Linked DNA regions of Homo sapiens. The protein of the gene in region 1 purifies or fractionates together with the protein of each later gene. This does not show direct contact. Each region holds a gene or a part of one and is shown in the gene's direction. Other genes may lie near its edges.

What was found. Proteins that work in one complex are often made in the same cells at the same time.
Region 2: the proteins of RTRAF (region 1) and NEK10 purify together in Homo sapiens (co-immunoprecipitation; one large-scale study listed by IntAct). This does not show direct contact.

What each region holds. Positions count from the first base shown.
Region 1 is NC_000014.9:52,006,546-52,008,869, forward strand, and holds part of RTRAF (RNA transcription, translation and transport factor protein), read left to right. Parts: coding exon of another isoform or gene 1-115; 3' UTR 116-1,264; coding exon of another isoform or gene 1,265-1,422; 3' UTR 1,423-2,324. Other genes in the region: NID2 (nidogen-2), read right to left, coding at 1-115, 1,265-1,422. UniProt on the Homo sapiens protein: RNA-binding protein involved in modulation of mRNA transcription by Polymerase II. Component of the tRNA-splicing ligase complex and is required for tRNA ligation.
Region 2 is NC_000003.12:27,107,384-27,110,883, reverse strand, and holds part of NEK10 (serine/threonine-protein kinase Nek10), read left to right. Parts: 3' UTR 1-1,229; coding exon of another isoform or gene 1,230-1,236; 3' UTR 1,237-3,500. UniProt on the Homo sapiens protein: Plays a role in the cellular response to UV irradiation. Mediates G2/M cell cycle arrest, MEK autoactivation and ERK1/2-signaling pathway activation in response to UV irradiation.

The sequences.
Region 1 (2,324 bases):
TCTGTGTGGTAGAAGTGATCTGCATAGCTTACGATGCTGAAGGGGTACTTGAGGTTGTTTTGAATGACACGCCGTCCAGTTCCATCAGGTAGTGTACACTCCAGTTTTTTGGTTCCTTTTAAAACAAAGGGGGAAAATGAGGTCCTTCAGCTGCTTTGCCAAAAATGATAGTGACATAGTGATAGTGACACAGTGATAGAATGGGGAAATAGGATATTTTACTTCCATTACAGTCATAGATTAGCAACTGTAAAATTACCTGTCCTATTACTAGTCTCCAGTTTTTAGTAGAGATTCAAACTTTCAATCCTTTTTTGGAAGACAGGATTGCATTTACTGAAATCTGGTAAGTTTCTGCCAAAGTAGGGCATTAAACATAATTATTTTTATAATTTGTGTGATTTCAAGCCTTAGCTTATAAATTATAACATCTGGGTAAATACTTGCCCTTTGTAAGCTATGTCTATAATTACTGAGGCAACCTTTTAACCAAAATCCTTAGTATTTTTAAAATATTTTCTAGGTAGGAGGAAAAAAGTGACTAAAATGGTAACATAACTCATATTTCAATGTAAAGGAATCAGTCTTAAAAATTTTTACAATAGCTAAACCATTCAAGAATTTCCAAGTTTCACATTTCTCATGGAGCCGATTTAAATTTCAAATCCTTTTAAGAAATGTAACTTGTTTTAAACAACTGGGTTATAAAAGTGACCTATGTACATTAGGCCCTTTTATTAGATTACAAATTCAAGAACAGTCTTTTTCATATTCTTTAGTATAGAACTAGACACACAGCATTTTTTCAGTTGTGCTGATAAAAGCAAACAAATGTAGGTTGCTAATACCCATGTTATTACTGAAGGAAGCTACCCTGCTACAATGCTTTCCAAAGAATGTCCTTAGCATTATAACAGATGTTTATAGGTAAGTTATAGTGACCCTCTCCCCGCATAAGAATAACTTCACTTAAGTTTGTCAATTCAACAATGGCTAATTCTTTTAACTGTTAAAAATATGCCAGGCACTCATGGTCAGGCAAGCAGTACAAACTTACTGCTTGATATATCCTTCCCTCCACCCAAACCCCAGAAAGTTCATTTTAAGACTCATTTACTAGTACTTAAATTTACTAGTACTTAAAAGTTTACAGACCAAAGAAAGGAGATCTAAGTGATGGGATTTCATTTTGTAGTAAAATCTGTTAGTGCTCACATTCACTGTGATGAGAGGTTATCTATTTGCATTCCATCAGTAGTATTACCTGCATCTGCCCAGCAGAGCAGTTTAGAGAAAGGGTCAAAGGTTAAGCCATTGGGCAATCCAATGTCTGTATTGATCAGAATTCTTCTGTTTTCTCCATCTAAAGATGACGTTTCAATTTTAGGAGCTTCTCTATTCCAGTCTGTCCAGTACAAGTTGCTGTAAGTTAAAAATCAAGATTGTAAAAGAATAGCCATGTAGCCTGTGGTAGGCAGCATCTAAGCAGCCCCCAGTGATCTCCATCTCCTCATGTATTATAGCCTTAAGCAATCCCCTTGAGTTTGGGCTGCATTAGTAGTGTCTTGCTTCTTCTAGTGCATAGAGTATAGCAGAAGTGATAGGCTATCACTGCCGATATTCGGTCTCAAAAAACTGGTTTCTGCCTTAGGGGCTCTCTCTTGCTCCCTTTGAGGGAAGCTGGATGCCATGTTGCAAGCTACCCTGTAAAGGGGAACATGTGCCAAGGAACTGATGTCCTTGAGGGCTGTTGGCCAGAGACATTAGTCTTGCCTGTAGCCCATGTGAGCATGCTTGGGCTGTGTCTTCCCCGAGCTGAGCCTTGTGATCACTGCAGTTTGGCCATTACCTGATTGCAGCCTTGTGAGAGACTCCATGCCTGAGGGAGCTCGGTGAAGACACACTTGGATTCCTGACTCACAGAAACTGTGAGACTAAATGTTATCTTACACTGCTGAGGGTTTGGGCAATTTCTTACACAGCAGTAGGTAACTAATACACAGCCATATTCCACTTTTACCTGTATCACAAGGTTTTCTGATTATTGTCACTATGTGGGAGAAGTCATTACTAAGTTACTATCAGAATCCCTGCCTCCAAGATACCCCTTGACTCAACTGCCCCAAAACCCTCCGTTTGTTGAAGTCTTGAATTGGATCTTGGGTTTTAGAATAGAAACAAATACAGCTGTTAGGAATGGCTTCGATACAAACTATGGAACTTGAAGAGATGTGGACCAGGGATTTGAGAAGGAAACTGTTCTTTCTTCTGCCAAAAATACAATTTGGTACTTGAAGGGGTACCTGGCACCCAGGGATGGAAAC
Region 2 (3,500 bases), on another chromosome or scaffold:
CTAAAAGTATATTTAAAGACATCTAGCCTTCCATATGTAAAAAATATTTTAGATAAAGACAGTTACAGGACTCAGAATAATATATTGGGTGATTCACTGTATCCTCCATTTTTACATTTAAAGAAATTCAAAATACGTGATTAAATTTTTTTTTTTTTAATGGATGGGTTGGTTCTCGCTTAACCACTTGGGTGCTAGTGGTCTTGAACTGTGATACAGTGTAGACAGTATTTGTAACCTTGCACAGCCTCTGGGGGTAACTGTCAAACTGTCAGATTTAACTTAGACTAATAGAATATATTGCTGTACAGTGTGTGTATATGTTTATATATGAGGGCGGAAGGAGAGAGGTTTTGATTAGACTAATGCTTTGCTGCTAATCAAACTTATAGTATTTTTAGAGCACTTTGAAGAGTTTATAGAATCTATGAAAAAGATGCAATATTCCTCATCCTAAATCCCTCCTTATTACAATTACCTAAATTGTTTATGAATTGTTTAGGATTTTGAAATGAAAATAAGTTAAATCCCTTTTTTACTCATTGAGGCAGCTCAGTGGAAGTGAAATCAGAATGCCAAACTGTGTATCATCCTTTATGCCGGGAGAATTATGATGAAAATCTGCTAGATTCTCACTGGGCTTAAACTCCTTCTCTTCAATCAGCTTCTTAAAACTCTGGTGTAATGTCAAGAAATACCCTTATTGCGAAATCTGTCTACACTTCTAGCTACCTAAAGAGCAATTTATTCTACATAATTAGTAATCTGAAAGTTGAAATTATACTTTTTATTTACTTTTCATGGAGTTCTGTCATCTTTATTTACACTGAATTTTTTTAGTATGATTGAATCGATTTTAGTTCAATGTATTTACAGTGGTTGAAAGACCATAACCTTCTTTCTGTATAGTATGAAAATCTACACTATTTTTAAATGAGCATATTTAATACTTAAATTATATCCAAATTCCCTTTAATCATGCACTAATGCTTTTGAAGATTGTCAATGGATCTTTCTTTAAGCCAAATTAACAATTACAGATACACTGTAATGTAAGATAATAGATGCAAATACAGTAATGAAAATTTCAGTTTCAGCTTTCAAACTAATTCTATCCATATGTGAAATTCATAAAATCAAAATGCTATGATATTGATTTACCCAGGCAAAATTTTATTTCTGTTCCAAGTTAATTTGAACCTGCACTTATAATTCTTTTTATCTTTCAGTGTATGAAAGGGGCACATTTCTTCTTCATGCAGGAAGCACAGACCTGGAGGGGCACAAATTCTAATTGTGGGGTGAGAGTTTGAAATCAAGTTATTTCCCAAATGGTAGTATATAGTAAACAGAATTTAGGAAAGAATAGTATTCAAAAGGTGTACCGTGGTAAGGGAAGATAAATGGTTTACTTGAAGATGTTTTAAAGTGTATATAGTTGGCCTTATTGACCAGAAAGTGAGCAAAATGTTTCCATCTAACTCTTTTTTTTTTTTTTTTTTTTTAAGACAGAGTCTCACTCTGTTGCCCAGGCTTGAGTGCAATGGCGAGATCTTAACTTACTGCAACCTCCGCCACCCAGGTTCAAGCAATTCTCCTGCCTCAGCCTCCCGAGTAACTGGGATTACAGGCATGTGCTGCCATGCCCAGCTAATTTTTGTGTTTTTAGTAGAGATGGGGTTACACCATGTTGGCCAGGCTGGTCTCAAACTCCTGACCTCAGGTGATCTGCCTGCCTCGGCCTCCCAAAGTGCTGGGATTAGAGGCGTGAGCCACTGTGCCCAGCCATTGCATGTAACTCTTTTAGGTGATAGGAATGGGCATTTATTATGCTAGAAGTCAGTGAAAGTTAAGTAAGCAGAAGCTGTCCTTTTTAACAACAGCTTCAGGCCTATCAACTCTATGTGGATAGATGTATTGTTTTGCTAAAAGTATGAATATGCTCTATTTGAATTCTCCCTAAACTACCACAATCACTGAGTCTATATTTTCCCATGTCTCTAAGAGAAAGTCAGGCTCTGGCAAAAGCACCATTTTGTACATAGAGTCACATCCCAACAGAGAAGTTAACTTTTCAGAAGCCTTTCTAACACAAATATGGAGCACCTCCCCTCATGACCAAGAATGATCATTTTGTTTTGATTCTCCAAACTGTCTATTAGTGCAAAGGAGTTGTTACATGAACTTCATAGACCTCTTAATCTTTTCTTGATTGCATTTATATATTTTTTCCCTTTCTCTTGTATAATTTTTAATGATTTGTTGTGCAATGAAATTCCTATGAATGCACCTAATTTCCGTAACTGAATATTTGCATGGAATAGAATATGAATCAGTCTTTTCAGATTACTTTTGAAACACAAATGCTCCCGTTAATTATGTTTCGACCCACCAGCTCTTTCTGAATTATGTGTACTTGAAACCTTAATTTGCTTTTTAAAAGCAAAATGTTTCATTCTCAGGGAAGTGACTGCAGCAGGAATATTTGCTTGCTTGTTAACTTTATCTTCCTCCAGGCATGTAGTCTTCAAATGGAGTCTTCAAGGGAATAGTGACGTGGACACTTGGACCCACTGCTTGTGGATGAATTTCAGAAACCTAGAGAAATGCTGCTTGTTTATTGTGGACACTTGTATGGCATTAGGCAGTGTTTACAGAATGTTTAGGCATTCTAAAGCAGAACACAATTAAGAAACACTGTTAGGAAATTTACTCAAATGATATAATTGATTAAGAGTTAGGTCTTCCTATAAGTATCATCTATGACTCATTAAATACTATGAATTTTGATGTCCAAAAACAAATACAGGTCTGATTATGTACAATTCCAGAAATATCATTAATTAATCACCACTCATTTTTAAGATGTGTGAAGACTGTAATATTGGCTAGTGAATTTTATCAGTATTAATATGCATAGAACCCACATTCCTCTTTTTGATTTGATGTATTATAGCATGTATGTATTGCTATTTTTCTCTTTTTTTGAAGTGGTGAGGAATCATGCACAGTCAATATGCTGGGTTCCTTTAGAAATGACTTTAGCTCCTGTCTGAAGGCAGGAAAAACTTCTTTTTAAGGAACTTTCATCATTGCCTTTTACTTTTTCTATGATGGTTTTCATGAGCACTGAAATCACTTGGAGAGGCAATGCAAAGAAATCTATCTGAAACAGCTTCTTGGCACCCTGGAGTTACAGCTATGAAGGGCTCCAACGTAAGGGAAGCTTAATGCTTCCGAATATTGACATTGACTCCTTGGGTGAAATTTTGTCCAAATATAAAATTCTTCATGTTCAACAACTAAATGTAATAAATGAATTTCATATATACTTACATGATATCTTTGAGATTAAATTAATTATCCTTTTGTAGGAACTGACAGCTTTGGGTAGATTATTTTTTCAGTTGAAATGTGTTGCTAACAATATGCTTACACTTGAACGCTGTTTTTCATATTGATAGGAAGACACAAATTTCTCAGGGAAACAGCTTTGTGAT